Linked DNA regions of Homo sapiens. The protein of the gene in region 2 interacts with the protein of the main gene of each other region in a pairwise test. Each region holds a gene or a part of one and is shown on either strand. Other genes may lie near its edges.

What was found. The genes of interacting proteins can lie anywhere in the genome.
Region 1: the proteins of FGF14 (region 2) and HOXD12 interact in binary tests that used the Homo sapiens proteins (3 or more experiments, as listed by UniProt).
Region 3: the proteins of FGF14 (region 2) and FKBP8 interact in binary tests that used the Homo sapiens proteins (3 or more experiments, as listed by UniProt).

Annotation. Positions count from the first base shown.
Region 1 is NC_000002.12:176,097,630-176,103,183, reverse strand, and holds HOXD12 (homeobox protein Hox-D12), read right to left. Parts: upstream 3,390-5,554; 5' UTR 3,383-3,389; coding exon 2,809-3,382; intron 2,663-2,808; coding exon 2,424-2,662; 3' UTR 695-2,423; downstream 1-694. UniProt on the Homo sapiens protein: Sequence-specific transcription factor which is part of a developmental regulatory system that provides cells with specific positional identities on the anterior-posterior axis.
Region 2 is NC_000013.11:101,909,584-101,914,459, reverse strand, and holds part of FGF14 (fibroblast growth factor 14), read left to right. Parts: intron 1-4,876. UniProt on the Homo sapiens protein: Probably involved in nervous system development and function.
Region 3 is NC_000019.10:18,532,985-18,537,860, forward strand, and holds part of FKBP8 (peptidyl-prolyl cis-trans isomerase FKBP8), read right to left. Parts: intron 4,790-4,876; coding exon 4,617-4,789; intron 364-4,616; coding exon 286-363; intron 1-285. UniProt on the Homo sapiens protein: Constitutively inactive PPiase, which becomes active when bound to calmodulin and calcium. Seems to act as a chaperone for BCL2, targets it to the mitochondria and modulates its phosphorylation state.

The DNA of each region.
Region 1 (5,554 bases), on a different chromosome or scaffold from region 2:
ATTTCAATTATACACCAAATTTGCTTCTGGGAAAGGGAGTTGAAATGTTGAATATTCAGTGTTAGTGATTTAGTGGTTTTGCTAATTCTTCCTCTAGCTAAAAGCTAGTTTCCACCTCCACCAGCTAGGAGCTTGTTTTTGCAAGAAAATGAGTAGCAAGCAGGCCCTGAATTTCCTGGACTAAGCTAGAGGTTCAGATGGACTAGGGAGTTTTGAGGCCCCATTTCCCAAGGGAGTCTGCTGGGCGCCTGGTAAACCTGCTGGTATCAAGGATTTAGCAGGACATAGCCGGTTCCAGAGAAGTCAGACCAAAATTCGGTGGAGACAGACGTTTTGTTTTGACATCTGAAGAACCTCAAATCTTTACAGACCCCGAATACCAGCAAGCTTTAAAATTTGAGAATTTAGGCTAAGTGTGGAAGTCCCAGCTTGCAACAAGCTGAGAGTCCCCTTAATGTGTGAGACACACTCAGATCTGCCATGGTCCTTCCCTTTTGGATATTCCAAACATATTTGGTTTGTAGGCTTTTACACACCATTTCCTGACTGCCTCGGAAGCCATTTTCTCATTTAACGAACAGTCAACACTCGCGGTGAAACAATAACCAGAAAAGAAAAACGAATTTGGTGGCCTGAAAAACATTAAGGTGGAATCCAAAACATTTTGAAAAATTGACTTCAGCTCCTTGACAGCTTGGCTCAGACCTGGATATTTATTTTCACTCAAAACATTTGTATATATTGTGTCTGATATATACAAGCTACTGTTTTTGACAAAATCAAAACAAAACATGCATGATAACTATTAGATAGCCTAGAAAATGAAATTAGTTTAAATATCAACTGAAGTCAGTTGGGCTAAGGCTCAGGGCTCTCTGTGAGGGGCCCACTCCAGATTTAGGGCCAGGTCCTGCACTGAAAAGAAATCACTGGACTTTGGGAAGGAATCCTGAATCCTTGAGTTGTTGTGCATCATGCTAGGAATTGCGAAGGAGGAGTGCTACATGTCAGAAGGAGAGGGGAGAAGAGGCAGGGATAGTGGAATGAGCTCGCAGGGGGAGGCTTGGTTCACTGAGATTAAGGCGGGACACTCCAGTACACCCAGAACAACTCCACCTGGCATTTGGGAACCCCTGCCTCCATGAGGCAAGCCTGGCAGGGCCCAGGGCCTTAAAGTCTCCACTGGGACAGGCCAGACATGCCTCAGAAGGGGCACAGTAGCTGGGCCTCTGGTAGAGTTGGCAGATGGTAGAGACGGTGAGAGGAACTTCTGGTCCTCTTTGCTTTGTCAAGAGCAGCTAGCGGGGCAGAGAATCTAAGAGACTTCCTTCCCCTCCCCTTGACTCTTGAGAAGGATTTTTGCCTATCCTTATGGGGTTCCATTAAGGTAATTGAAGAAAGAAAGATGCACCAACACCTTTACTCACCTCAACTGGAAAGCCATATTTACAGTTGGAGTGCAGCACCCCTCCTCCTCTTATTCACTCCCTTCTCCTCCCCTGGATATTTTTCCCTCTCCCTGTGCAACAGAGCTTCAAAGCAGACCAACAGCTCCTTTCACCAGAGCTAGCCTCTGGGGATCCAGTTACAGGGTTCATAGGCCTGGCCTAGGCATGTTTGAGAAGGTGGGAGTAGGGCAATGTTTGCCAGTCTTGTCTGGAGATGGCACTTGTCTGGAGTCCCAGTCTCTCTCATCCCATCTCAGGAAATGAAGGTTCCACATATTCTACCCAGCTGGAAATAGGCCAGCCTATTTCGCATTTCTCATTTCGAGATATCTCCAAGTTTACCCCACTACCCAGCCCCTCCCCTTCCCTCCCTTTTCCTCCCAAAGTCTGAAGATCTAGTGTGGCTTTTGTTCTCTCAAATCAGCCAGGGCAGACAGGAGGGTGGAGGGTGGATGGTGCCCTTTCCTTTCTCCAGAGTGAAGATCCTGGCCTTGCCACAAAGGGCTTCTGCTGCAGAGACCTAATTGTACCCACAGTCCTTTCCATTCCCTCAGGAGGCCTTCCACTCTGAGCCCTAACTAGGCGACTGCTATACGCTGAAGGGGCTGGAGAGAGGGGGAAAGGGAGAACGAATTGGGTGGAAACAGAAAAATCCAGGTACCGGGGAGCAAGAATGAGCGGTGGGTGCAAATGCCCCAGCCAGGAGCAAGGAGAGTTGGCCTCAGTCCCCCAACGTGGAAGCCTTAAGGCCAGCCAGAGTTGCACTGGTACTTCCGCACGTTTCTCACGGGCTTCTCAGGGACTGAGGAAAGCAAGGAGGCCCAACTGGCCTGGTCTGTAAATCTCTTGGTGGCTTCTGGGGCCAGCAGAGAAGGAACCGAAGGAAAAGCCTTAGCCTTAGCCCCAGATCCCCCTCCCCAAACAAGGCCTCTGTCCAAAAGGGCAGATCCAACCCGGCCCTGGCCACGCGCGCGGCTAGTAGAGCGCCAGCGCCTGCTCCCGAAGCACCACGCGCTTCTTCTTCATACGCCTGTTCTGGAACCAGATTTTGACTTGCTGGTCGCTGAGGTTCAGCCTATTGGACAATTCCTTGCGTTTCTGCCTGTTGATGAATTCGTTGACGAGGAATTCGTTCTCCAACTCCGCAATCTGCTGCTTCGTGTAGGGTTTCCGCTTCTTGCGGGCCCTCCCCGGGGCCGCCCCCCACGGCAGGCCTGCAACACAGCCCCAACCCACGTCAACCCAGCCCGTACTCTGTCTATTGCCCGCCCCCAGGCGGTTCACCTCCCCTTACACTCTCCCTTGAACCCCACCTCCCATCCCGGCCCAAACCGGCCCGGGGAGCATGGGCACCGTTTACCGTCGGGCAGTGAAGGTCGCAGGCAAGAGGCAACGCCCGCCGCCTGCACTGTCATGTTCAAGTTGAGCGGGCCCTTGGTGTCGTCCTTGAAGCCAGGGGCGCAGGGAGCCCCCTGGAGCAGGGTCGTGGAGCCCGGCGTGGCACGACCCACACCAGCGTAGTCATACTTGGCCGCTTTGAGAGCAGCCACTGCAGGAGCCAGGCTAGACTCGGGGGCGAAGGACGGCCGGGTACGACCGCGCTCCTCTGGCCCAGCGGCCGCTTCGGGCGCATAGAACTTAGCCTGCTCTTCGGGTCCGTCTTTGGCTGTTGGGGGCTGCAGGCCGAGAGGCCCGGAGCCAGCCAGGTAGGGCTGCGAGAAGCCGCCGAAGGCAGTGGCGCCCGCAGGCTGCGCGGGGGCGCAGGAGGCGGGCGTGGCGGCCCAGGGCAGCGCGCCGCGCGGGTAGGAGATAGGGGGAAGCGCGGCCAACTGGCCGCCATTCGGCCTCAGGTTGGAGAAGTAGAAAGAGTCTGGCGACTGCAGATTCAGAAGCGAGCCCACATAGCCCGCTCTGTAGAGACTGCGCTCACACATCTCCAACAAAGGGCTTCGGCTGCGCTCGCAACAGTATTTAGTTACAACCGGGAATAAGAGGACAGGCTCAGACGATTGGACGAAACTTTGCCTGCAGGTTCTTCAAAGCCGGTCATTTCAGCACCGCCTACATCCCCCCGACCCGTTTTCCCCCCCTTCAGAGTATTATGATAACACCCGCAATGTTCGATGGCGAAGGACGAGGCTGCCAGCAGAGCCAAATCAGGTTGAGCGAAGACTAACTGTCTGCGGGTTTCCAGGCCCGGCTTCAGCAGCTGGGGACATCGGGCAAGAGGGTGACTCTGCCCAAGTGTCCCCTGGGACTCTTCTTGGTCGTGATTGGCTTTGCGATTCGTTTTCCGCAGGCTTTCTGGGCCCGGCTTGCTTCTACCGGCTTTAAGTTGCAGCGGAGGCATTTTCCATTAACCGGCGCCTCTCGACTTATCCGGAGAGGGCGCGGTCCGGCGGCACCAGGAGCTCTGTCCCTTGGCCTGAGCAATGTCACTTTTACCCCAATCACTCCCACAGAGAGGGTTTCTCCAGAGACCTCTGCCTGAGGATCTGGCAGCAAAGACCCATTCGCTACTTGAGCCCTCAGTCCCAGGCCGCAGACACAAAAAGGGCATCACAAACTACCCAATTTTGGGATCCAGGAAGGAGGCCACACTATTTCTGGTTTGTGTCCCCATGGCTAAGAACTCTGATCATAGGGAAATTGCCATACAGGTCCATGGAGAATGTCCGCCAGGGAACCCATCAGCTCGATCCACCAATCGTGGCCAAAGGCTACATTCCTTTTATCTTCAGGAGTCCTCTCCAGGACTACACACTGCAAACCAGAACTCCGAGGTGTCCCCATCCACCAAGTGGAGGGCAAAGCAGGACGAACTCCCCCGACTGGGTGTGGAAAGGCAGAAGAGCCAGAACCACCTGGCCGGGGAACAGCGGGCGTTCGGAGGCAGCTGGCTAGCAGAGTTCCTTGCCTCAGCGCCCCCAGGGGTGCCGGGGATAGGGAGTTCACGGGTCTGACAAACAGGGAAGTGGGAAAGGCAGCAGTTCTTAGCCGGGAGCGGTGTGCTCAGACCCCGTCGCTGGCCCTCTTGCCTAGTCCGGCCAGAGGACTAGGGGTCCTCCCCTCCTGCCTCTGATCCCAAGACCCTGGGAGACCCGGTGACCGGCGCCAGTCTCAGCCTGCAGCAGGACCCTCGGTCTCCGAGCCAAGCTGGAATTGGTTAGATCGCGGGCTCCTGCACTGAGACCACACAGGCGCCGCCGGAGGGCAAGACTGACCGCCGCGCTGCCACTTTATTGTGTGAGTTATGGCGACCAATTGGGTGGCTCTGGGGAACGCAATCGGCCTCTTCCTCCTGCTCTGGTGGGGGGGAGAGAGGGAGTGAGGACGGGGGGGTGGGGATGTCTGGGGCTCCTCTGGCTCTGCCAGAGAGTTTCCTTAGGAGCCCAGGCATAGAGACTCACTCGCTCTCGTCCTCTCTTGGGAGGTGGGGGCAAGCACAAACTGCAATCCCAGTTCCTAGATACTCAAGGGAATACAAGCCTCAGATCCCTAAGAGCTCTTATTTTGGGGAACCCATCCTATTTTCGAGGAGCTGCAGCTTCGTTACTCCCGAAAGCTCCAGCTCCAGGGGTCCCTGCAGTCTCTCCTCACGTTTCAGTGCACGACGATTCCTCGTTATTTCCAAGCCGAGGGGTGTCTCTTTCGGACCTTTAGGCAGCCCTACAACAGCTGTTTGCGCCTCAGGACTAAAGGCATAAAAGAACTCAGTGAAAAACAGGAAAAACAAGAACAACTAGGTTCCCTCCATTGCTCCTTGGACAGTCTTCCCACTTCATCCCCCGGGTTTATGACTTTCGAGGTCTGGCAGGCAAAGTCTTATGCGAGCTGGGGAACCTGATCGAGGGAGGATCGGGGTGGAAAGTAGTGGCGGGAGAGTGGCTTGGCTGGTGATTAAGAGAATGGAACAGGATTTGGCTGAGGAGCGAATAGAGAGCTCTGCCAATGCCGCCCAATGCCCAGGAGATGGCGAGCGCGCTCCATGCCTATCGGGGCGCAGCCGCACGGTCAAGATCAACAGTGAAGGGCGGTGCGGCCTCCCTGGGGTCGCCAGCCCGCTTTCAGACGCAGCCTAGCGCCTCCGAAAGCCGGAGATCTTG
Region 2 (4,876 bases):
TTGGACAGGAAAATAGAAGGGAAGATACGTTATAAGGAAATTGTATGAGAATTTTTTATTCTTCTTATATTTCTTATATAAAAGTATATATATTCTTCAGAGGAGAAAAATACAGATATATCTCTTGAGTATCAGAAAAGGATTAATTTATTAGTATCACTAATTTTAAGCAAAACAAATATTAAGACTTTATGTTATGTAAATTATATATCGACATATAATAGTATGCTTTTATATTATTATATATAACAATATAATTATTCATTTAATTAAGTCTTATTGTCGAACATATTTTCAAGCATATTTACCTTCTTATTACACACTCTTTACATAGGGAATTGCCCTCAGAAAATTTTAAAAAATCATATTTATTAAAGATACAACCTTTAAGTCTGATGGTTTTATATGTCTTTATAGCTGAAAATAATATAACAATTATTGAATCTTTACAATCTGTTAGGCTCTGTAGCAGGTATTATATATACATACAGCAGTGAATAGAAGAGTTGAAGTTCCTGCCATCATGGAGCTCACAAACATGGGGTAGAGAGTCATTGCCTATGGAAAGGAACAAATTAATAAGAAATAATAAAATTCAAAGTCCTATAAAGCATGAAGAGAGCTGGGATAAAGAATTATGGAGGAGAGAGGGGTGGGGAGAGGGATCTAATTAGATAAAGTAGTCAGGGTGGGCAACACTGGGATCCACAGGTTGAGAGATGACAGGTAAGAAGGATGCAGAGATTTTAAGAGCAGGTAGAAAAAGCAATGTGTGTGCAGAGACCTTGAGGTGGAAAAAATATTGTCCCATTGGGAGAAAAAAAAGAGGCATAGAAATTTTAAGCACATTGTCAAGTAGAATATAGTGTGATATGCTTGAAAACAGAATAAAGAATAGCTCCACATTTTGTGTTTTGGGGAAGGGTAATACACATTTTTGAAATGTAGGGTTTTAAAAAATCCTTTATTAAGTAGTAATTTATTTAATGTAAAGATTATTGAGTTGGAGCCCTACACCCACACTCTTTCCTATCTCCATCACCCCTACCCCTATAGAAGAGTGATGTTTATACCAGTTGACTTACTCTTGTGAAGGACAGAAATTTGCAAGATGGCTATTAATGGTGTGGTAGGCAGCATGACTGCAACCCACCTTTCCAGATTCAGCTCCATCTACCCTCCACCGACCTCCACAGATTTCAAACACAATACAATGCCACACACCCCGCAAATTAGTCATATGCTTTCAAATCCTTATCCTTTTGTTTGTGCTTTACTGTGTGTCTAGCATCTTCTCCTCACTTCTACATTCACCTGTTGAAATTATGAAATTATTCTCATTTTGAAAAGCTGAGAGAAAATGCCATCTCCTCTGAGAAGCCTTCATTTATTGGATACAATTAAAAATAATTCTCCTGTGGTATTTCATACGTCACTGTTGTTGTTTATATATACCTGATAATAATTAATTAAGTATACATATTCAGCTGATTGTAGGGAAGAAGCAAAGTCTGTGTTTTCTGCATCTTCATAGGCTCTCAAATCTTGAGAGTGTTTGCCATACACTGGGTTCTCCTCATTGCCCTTGGATTGGAGTGAAATAAGGAAGGTTAATAGGCCCAAGCTAAAAAAGAAAGTATCCTTGAACCAGAGTGATCTAACTAGATAATTTTAGACATAAAAATACTTTTCAAATTTTATACCTTTTTTACTTTCCCTAAATAAATATAATTATATCTTTTTTTAAGAGAATTAGAGGGATTACATATTTGTGGGTTATTTATAAGAATGCAAGAACATAAACAACCTCATTTTAAAGCTTAACTAATATATGAACAAAGATATTTACATATATTGATTTAGCCAAAGAAAGGGGAATTTACAAGGAAATCAACAGTTTGCAAATAGTTTTATTATTTGGAATCTTAACAAAAATGAAAACTAAAGTAGCCACTGACTACAATGGTGTATAATGAACATTGTATCCCCAAAAGTGTTATGTTTTTATTATGAATTTTTCAATCAAACAAGAACCATAATTGTTCACAGGATAATAACCTTTCTAAATCTTTGGCATGGCTGCTAATGCAGTTGTTTCTTGAGATTTACTTTTTTGGGGCTGTGATCATGAGAGCTATGGTATTATGTGCCATGTATGCTTAATCAGCAGGTGCCTGGGCTTCTTACTAACATTTTAACTAAAATAAATTACAGTATGTATAAGGAATGGAAAGTGAGGTACTTAAAATGTGTTTTCAAGTTAATGCATAATATAAAAAGCAGAAATGCATGTACACCTATAGAAATAAACTGCTTTGCTCCAGTGTGATAGTGAAATCCATCAGTTATTCTAAGAAAAGTGTCCTTCCTTCTTACAAGGTGCTATGTAAGGAAACAAGTGTCTACCGTCTCAGAAAATAATCCACAGCAAATAGTCATCAAAAAAAAAAAAAAACACTGTTTTTGTGCGCTACTGTTTTAGTGTCATTACCATGTGCTCATACAAAGACCACATGCTTGTTTGTTTTGGCTGTTTTGGCTAAACTAAAACAAGGGAACATTTTTCTTCAAAGCACTTTTTATTTTTTGGAAGATATTTTCTCTTTGGTGTTGGTTTTCTAAGGCCATACCCATTGGAGTCTTACTACATATTAATACCTGTTGCTAACTTTTTGATAATTATAATTTTATTATTTGTTAGTTGTATTAAGGTTAGATCAAATTATGGTCTTCTAAATTAAAATGTTGAGTTTTGTTTTGTTTTGTTTTTAACAAGGGACATACTATAAATGCAATTTCTAAGCAGGGAATCTTATGAGAATATTACCAGATTGGTCAATGAAATAATGTTAGAGACAAAAAAGGCATTCATTGTTTATGCATTTTCCTCCTGTGGCTTAATTGTTATGATTTCACAGTCCATATTTGCTATAGGTTTCTGAAAATGTTTAATACCTCAGTAGTTCAATAAGTAAAGTGTAAAATAGTGTAACAGATTAGGTATAATGTAATTAAACATAAAGAAGATGGTTTGCTTTGGGTTTAGTTATATCCATAGATTGAGTTGAGTTTACATATATTAATAATCTATGGCCAACTGTCTGGTGAAGAAATCCTGTGACCTTTCCTAACAAGATTTCAGATACACAAAACCTTCTGTCCCAAAGTTACCGTAATCAATTACGGGCTTCACTTCACATTTTGAATTTGAATACTTTTACATTTAGCCCCAAACTTGTGATTTTTGTTAGTAATTCCATTCTCTATGATGTTACTGTGAGAACAAGTATTTTCAAACCCAACAAGAACCTCCCTTCTCTTTGGTGTAAAGTTACGTCTTCTAAATTTTATTTATTTAAATTTTTTTAAATGGTAGAAATTTAAAAGGAAAGGTTTCTAAATATGATTTATCCACTTAGTTATGGAATTCTATATTTTTCTTAGATATAATTTATATTAATGTCTCCCCAAATGTTGAGAAACTTTAGCCAAAGAGGACTATGATATTTAGATAATACAAATGTTATATAATATTTCAAATATTGTTTTAGCACCCAACAACTAAAACACACACACACACACACACACACACACACACACACACACACACACACACACACACGAATCCAAATCTCTAAGAGACCATTTCAGAGACGTCAATGCAATTTAAAGCCAGTTACAGTGTTTGCATTAGAAAACAACTAATTTCATAGTTTTGGTCTATAATGGTCCAGCATTCAATTTAAGAAACTCAGATCACATGAAAATGTCACCATTTGCTGTTTACTGGGGTGACAGTATACCAGTAGGCATGCGTAGAAATGCAGACACAGTGTCTACACCATTTTATGATAGGTACTACTTTGTCATTCAGAAAAATGTCTCCTTTCATAAAATTAAATTTTGTAATTTATTTTGTGGAATGTATGTTTCTCCCTATGATTTTATGGTTTTTGATATTGGGATTGATAGGAACCCATACGGCATCACCATAGGGAAGGGCCACTTCAAAGTCATTGTCTCACCAGTGCCTGGCATACAGCTAACACTTCAGAAGTATTTGTTGAGTGAATGAAACATACCACATTTGTCAGGACATATATGCAGCAGAAGCATAGAATACAATTGAGATAAATGAACGCATAGCAATGGCTATAATTGGATAATTATTATTATTATTATTTTGGTCTGATTTACTTTTTATTTTATTTATTTTTTTATACTTTATGTTTTAGGGTACATGTGCACAAAGCGCAGGTTTGTTACATATGTATACATGTGCCGTGTTGGTGTGCTGCACCCAGTAACTCGTCATTTAACATTAGGTATATCTCCTAATGCTATCCCTCCCCCCTACCCCCACCCCACAACAGGCCCTCGTGTGTGATGTTCCCCTTCCTGTGTCCATGTGTTCTCCTTGTTCAATTCCCACCTATGAGTGAGAACGTGCGGTGTTTGGTTTTTTTGTCCTGGTGATAGTTTGCTGAGAATGATGGTTTCCAGCTTCATCCATGTCCCTACAAAGGACATTAACTCATCATTTTTTATGGCTGCATTGTATTCCATGGTGTATATGTGCCACATTTTCTTAACCCAGTCTATCATTGTTGGACATTTGGGTTGGTTCCAAGTCTTTGCTATTGTGAATAGTGCCGCAAGAAACATATGTGTGCGTGTGTCTTTACAGAAGCATGATTTATAGTCCTTTGGGTATATACCCAGTAATGGGATGGCTGGGTCAAATGGTATTTCTAGTTCTAGATCCCTGAGGAATCGCCACACTGACTTCCACAATGGTTGAACTAGTTTACAGTCCCACCAACAGTGTAAAAGTGTTCCTATTTCTCCACATCCTCTCTATCACCTGTTGTTTCCT
Region 3 (4,876 bases), on a different chromosome or scaffold from region 2:
CAGAGCACAAGGTAGCCAGGAGACAAAAGGTTCTGGAAGGAAGGCCAAGGACACTGGCATGGAGCAGGCTGGCAGTGCCCTCAGCTGCTGGAGGAGTGAGAGCCCAGACTGCCTGTGTGGCCGTCATGAGGGTCTTCACAAGCTGACCAGGACCCTTCAGGTACCTACTCCGTGCCACTGCCCAGGTGGGAACACAACAGAGAGCCACAGCAAGAAAGACCTGGGGCAGACCGCAGGAGGGACTTCCCAGCCGAGCAAGTCCCAGGGCACCCCTGTCCTGCTCACCTTGTTGGAAGGTTCCAGCTTCAGGGCTGCCCTCAGGATGGGGATGGCCTCACTGTACTCCCCCTGCTGGGCCAGCACCTGTAAGGGGAAGGGGGTGGCATCACTCTGGACCCATACCTGGGCCTGTCCTTCAAGAAATCCAGCCCAGGAGGTTGCAGTGAGCCAAGATGGTGTCACTGCACTCCAGCTTGAGCAACAGAGCAAGACTCCATCTCAAAAAATAAAATAAAATAAAAACAGCCTGGCCAACATGGAGAAACCCCGTCTCTACCAAAAAATACAAAAATTAGCCAGGCGTGGTGGCATGCACCTGTAGTCCTAGCTACTCAGGAGGCTGAGGTGGGAGGATTGCTTGAACCAGGGGGCAGAAGTTGCAGTGAGCCGAGATCACACCACTGCACCCCAGTCTGGGTGACAGAGTGCAACCCTGTCTTAAAAAAAGAAAAAAAAAAAAGGGTCGGGCGCAGTGGCTCATGCCTGTAATCCCAGCACTTTGGGAGGCCGAGGCGGGCGGATCACAAGGTCAGGAGATCAAGACCATCCTGGCTAAGACGGTGAAACCCTGTATCTACTAAAAATACAAAAAAAATTAGCTGGGCGAGGTGGCGGGCGCCTGATAGTCCCAGCTACTCGGGAGGCTGAGGCAGGAGAATGGCGTGAACCCGGGAGGCGGAGCTTGCAGTGAGCCGAGATCGTGCCACTGCACTCCAGCCTGGGCGACAGAGTGAGACTCCATCTCAAAAAAAAAAAAAAAGGCTGGGCGCGGTGGCTCACACCTGTAATCCCAGCACTTTGGGAGGTCAAGGCAGGCGGATCAAGAGGTCAGGACGTCAAGACCATCCTGGCTAACATGGTGAAACTCCGTCTCTACTAAAAAATACAAAAAAATTAGCCGGGCATGGTGGCGGGCGCCTGTAGTCCCAGCTACTCGGGAGGCTGAGGCAGGAGAATGGCGTGAACCCAGGAGGCAGCACTTGCAGTGAGCCGAGATCACGCCACTGCAGTCCAGCCTGGGCGACAGAGCGAGACTCCGTCTCAAAAACAAACAAACAAACAAAAAAAACAGCCAGGCTCCTGGCTACTCATACAAGTGCCAAATGGAGCTCTGGCAACATCCCTGGGTTCCAGCCACTCCCAAACTGCTCTCCTAGCCCTCAAACTCCATCAGTGCACACTTAGCTTGGCATTGGTCCCCGCAACATGCTCCTCCTTCCTGTCTCAGCTGCAGATCTAGGCACCCACCTCGCTGCCTCCTCCCTCACCACCTCCACTGGCGAGAGGCCGAATGGATGCTTCCAGAGGTTGTTGTTTTTTTTTTCTCTTTCCTTTAGAGACAGGGTCTTGATCGGTCACCCAGGCTGGAGTGCAATGGCATGATCATAGCTCACTGCAGCCTCAAACTCCTAGGCTCACACAATCCTCCAGCCTCAGCCTCCCGAGGAGCTGGGACTACAGGCGTGTACTACCATGTCCAACGAATTATTTATTTATGTATTTATTTATAAAATTATTATTACTATTGTTATTATTATTATTTTGAGATGGAGTCTCACTCTCGCCCAGGCTGGAGTGCAGTGGCACGATCTTGGCTCAATGCAAGCTCTGCCTCCCGGGTTCACGCCATTCTCCTGCCTCAGCCTCCCGAGTAACTGGGATTACAGGCACCTACCACCACCGGCTAATTTTTGTATTTTTAGTAGAGACAGGGTTTTACCATGTTGGCCAGGCTGGTCTCAAACTCCTGACCTCAAGTGATCCACCTGCCTCAGCCTCCCAAAGTGCTGGTATTACAGGCATGAGCCACCGCTCCAGGCCTACTTATTTATTTATTTTATTTTAGAGACAGGGCCATGTTCCCCAGGATGGTTTCGAACTCCTGGGCTCAACCAATCCACCTGCCTCGGTCTCCCAAAGTGCTGGGATTATAGGCGTGAGCCACCACGCCCAGCCCTTAATTATTTTTTAAATTTTTGTAGCAATGGGGTCTCACTATGCTGCCAAGACTGGTCTTGAATTCCTGGGCTCAAATGATCCTCCTACCTTGGCCTCCTGAAGTGCTGAGATTACAGGCGTGAGGCACCACACCTGGCCCTGATGTTTCCAAAGCTTTGGCCATAGTGAATGATTCAGGACCAGGCACATGACCCAAATGAGTCAATGAGATCCAGCCTGCACTATGCTGGTGCTGATGGGAGATGGGTTGCTAAGGGGAGAAGATGGAGCTGGGCGAAGTGGCTCACGCCTATAATCCCAGCACTTTGGGAGGTCAAGGCAGGTGGATCACTTGAGGTCAGGAGTTCAAGACCAGCCTGGCCAACATGGTGAAACCCCGTCTATACTAAAAATACAAAAAAAGGCTGGATGTGCTCGCTTGAACCCAGGAGGCAGAGGTTGCAGTGAGCCAAGATCGTGCCACTGCACTCCAGCCTGGGTGACAGAGCAAGACTCTGTCTCAAAAAAAAAAAAAAAAGGAGGGGGTAGAAGATGGAAATCTGTAACTTTCCAGGGGGGAGGGGGGAGCATCATGGTCACCCTGAGAGAGGAGCCGGCCCAGGAGGGAAGGTCAGAGCAGAGAAACAGCATCCCCACAATATTGTGAGTGCCTGGATCCAGCTATGCCTGAAGCCAGCTAATCCAAACTTGGCAGTTCCATGAGCTATCGATCCCTCCTTTCTGCTTGAACCTGTTTGAGTGGGTTTCTATCACCTTCAACCAGCAGGTCCAAACTTGTATGAAGCTACACAAGCAGCCACTCCTGCTGCCCCCAGGAGGATACTACCCCCAGGTTGAGAACAAAGCCTTCAAAAACAGGAACTGCATCTTCTCCCTCTTCATATTTCTCTGCAGAACTCCGCACACAGTATGTCCTTAATAAATCCCAGCTGGAGGGAGCCCCACCTCAGGCTTTTCAGAAACACAGCAGGTGAGCCAGTATCTGTGCCTCAGTTTCCTTCGTTAACTGCTAAAAGGTCCTGAAAGCCCCACCTAGGGGTGAGGCTGTGAGGATGAACAGAAAAGGGGGTGAGAATGAAGGTCAAGTCTGTGCAAGCCAGATTCACCCCTATGTTCTGCCAGAACTTTTTTTTCTGTTCTCGTGTTTTGTTTTTGACACAGGGTCTTGCTCTGCTGCCAAGGCTGGAGTGCAGTGGTGTGATCAAGGCTCACTGCAGCCTTGACCTTCGGGGCTCAAGCCATCCTCAGCCTCCTGAGCAACTGGGACGACAGGCCCGCGCCCCCACACCCAGCTAATTTTTGTATATTTTGGGTAGAGAAGGGGGTCTCCCTATGTTGCCTGGGCTCGTCGCAAATGTCTGGGCTCATGCGATCCTCCTGCCTTGGCCTCCTGTAATCCCAAGTGCTGGGATTACAGGAATGAGCCATTGTGCCTGGCCTCTGCCAGGACTTTTACTGAGCACCTACTATGTACCTGGCCCTGTTTGCAAGGCTGGAGATCCGGCAGTGAGCAAGACAGACCAAATCTCCACCTTTGAGTAAGGTAGATGGACAAGAGGCATGTCACCTCCACGTGCTGCCTGTCAGGAACATCTCAGACAGTCGGCAATGCCTACGCAAAGGCCCTGAGGTGGAGAGAGCCTGGCTAGACAGCAGAAAGGGAGAATGCCACGTGGGATGGAGAGAAGCAGAAAGTGAGGTGGGAGAAGTGATAGCAGGAGGGGGAAGACCAGACAACTCAAGGCCCCAAGGGCTGTGACTAGGATTCCACTTTACTCTGAGGAAAACTGGGACCCATGGAGGTTCTATGGGAGGAGGTTTCAACACTGGGCCAAGCCGGGCACGGTGGCTCAGGCCTGTAATCTCAGCACATGGGGAGACTGAGGCGGGCAGATCACTTGAGGTCAGGAGTTCGAGACCAGCCTGGCCAATATGGCTAACCACATCTCTACTAAAAATACAAAAATTAACTGGGTGTGGTGGCTCGCACCTGTAGTCCCAGCTACTTGGGAGGTTGAGGCAGGACAATCGCTTGAACCCAGGAGGAGGAGGTTGCGGTGGTGAGCTGAGATCACACCACTGCACTCCAGCCTGGGTGACAGAGTGAGACTCTGTCTCAAGAAACAAACAAACAAACAAACAAAAAACACTGGGCCAAAGGTTGGGGACCCAAGACTCGAGGATCAAATTCTGGCCTCAGCCAATGAATTGTTGTGACCAGGCCACACTCCTGCACCCGTCTGGGCCTCAGTTTCTCCACCTGCACCCCACAGAGCTCAGCTGGCTTATATACCTATGCCTTTCTCAAATGCAGGGTTGGGGACCACCCCGTATACCCCAGGCTGAGTGACCCGGCCTGGCACCCCGGTGTGGCCTACCTTGCCCTTGCGGAAGAGAGCCTTGATGTTGTCTGGCTGGTGCTCCAGCACAAGGCTGCAGGAGCGCAGGGCTGCGCGGTAGTGGTCGAGCTTCAGCTGCGAGGCCGCCAGGTTGTTCAGACACTTCACCTTCAACTGCAGGAGCTGTGCCTCCTCCTCGAACGTCATGTCCACTATTGGGAGACAGTGCCCGCCACGGCAGCCGTCACCATGCCACCAGACACCCCGGCACCCACCCCTCTGCGGAGGCTGCCTCTCTG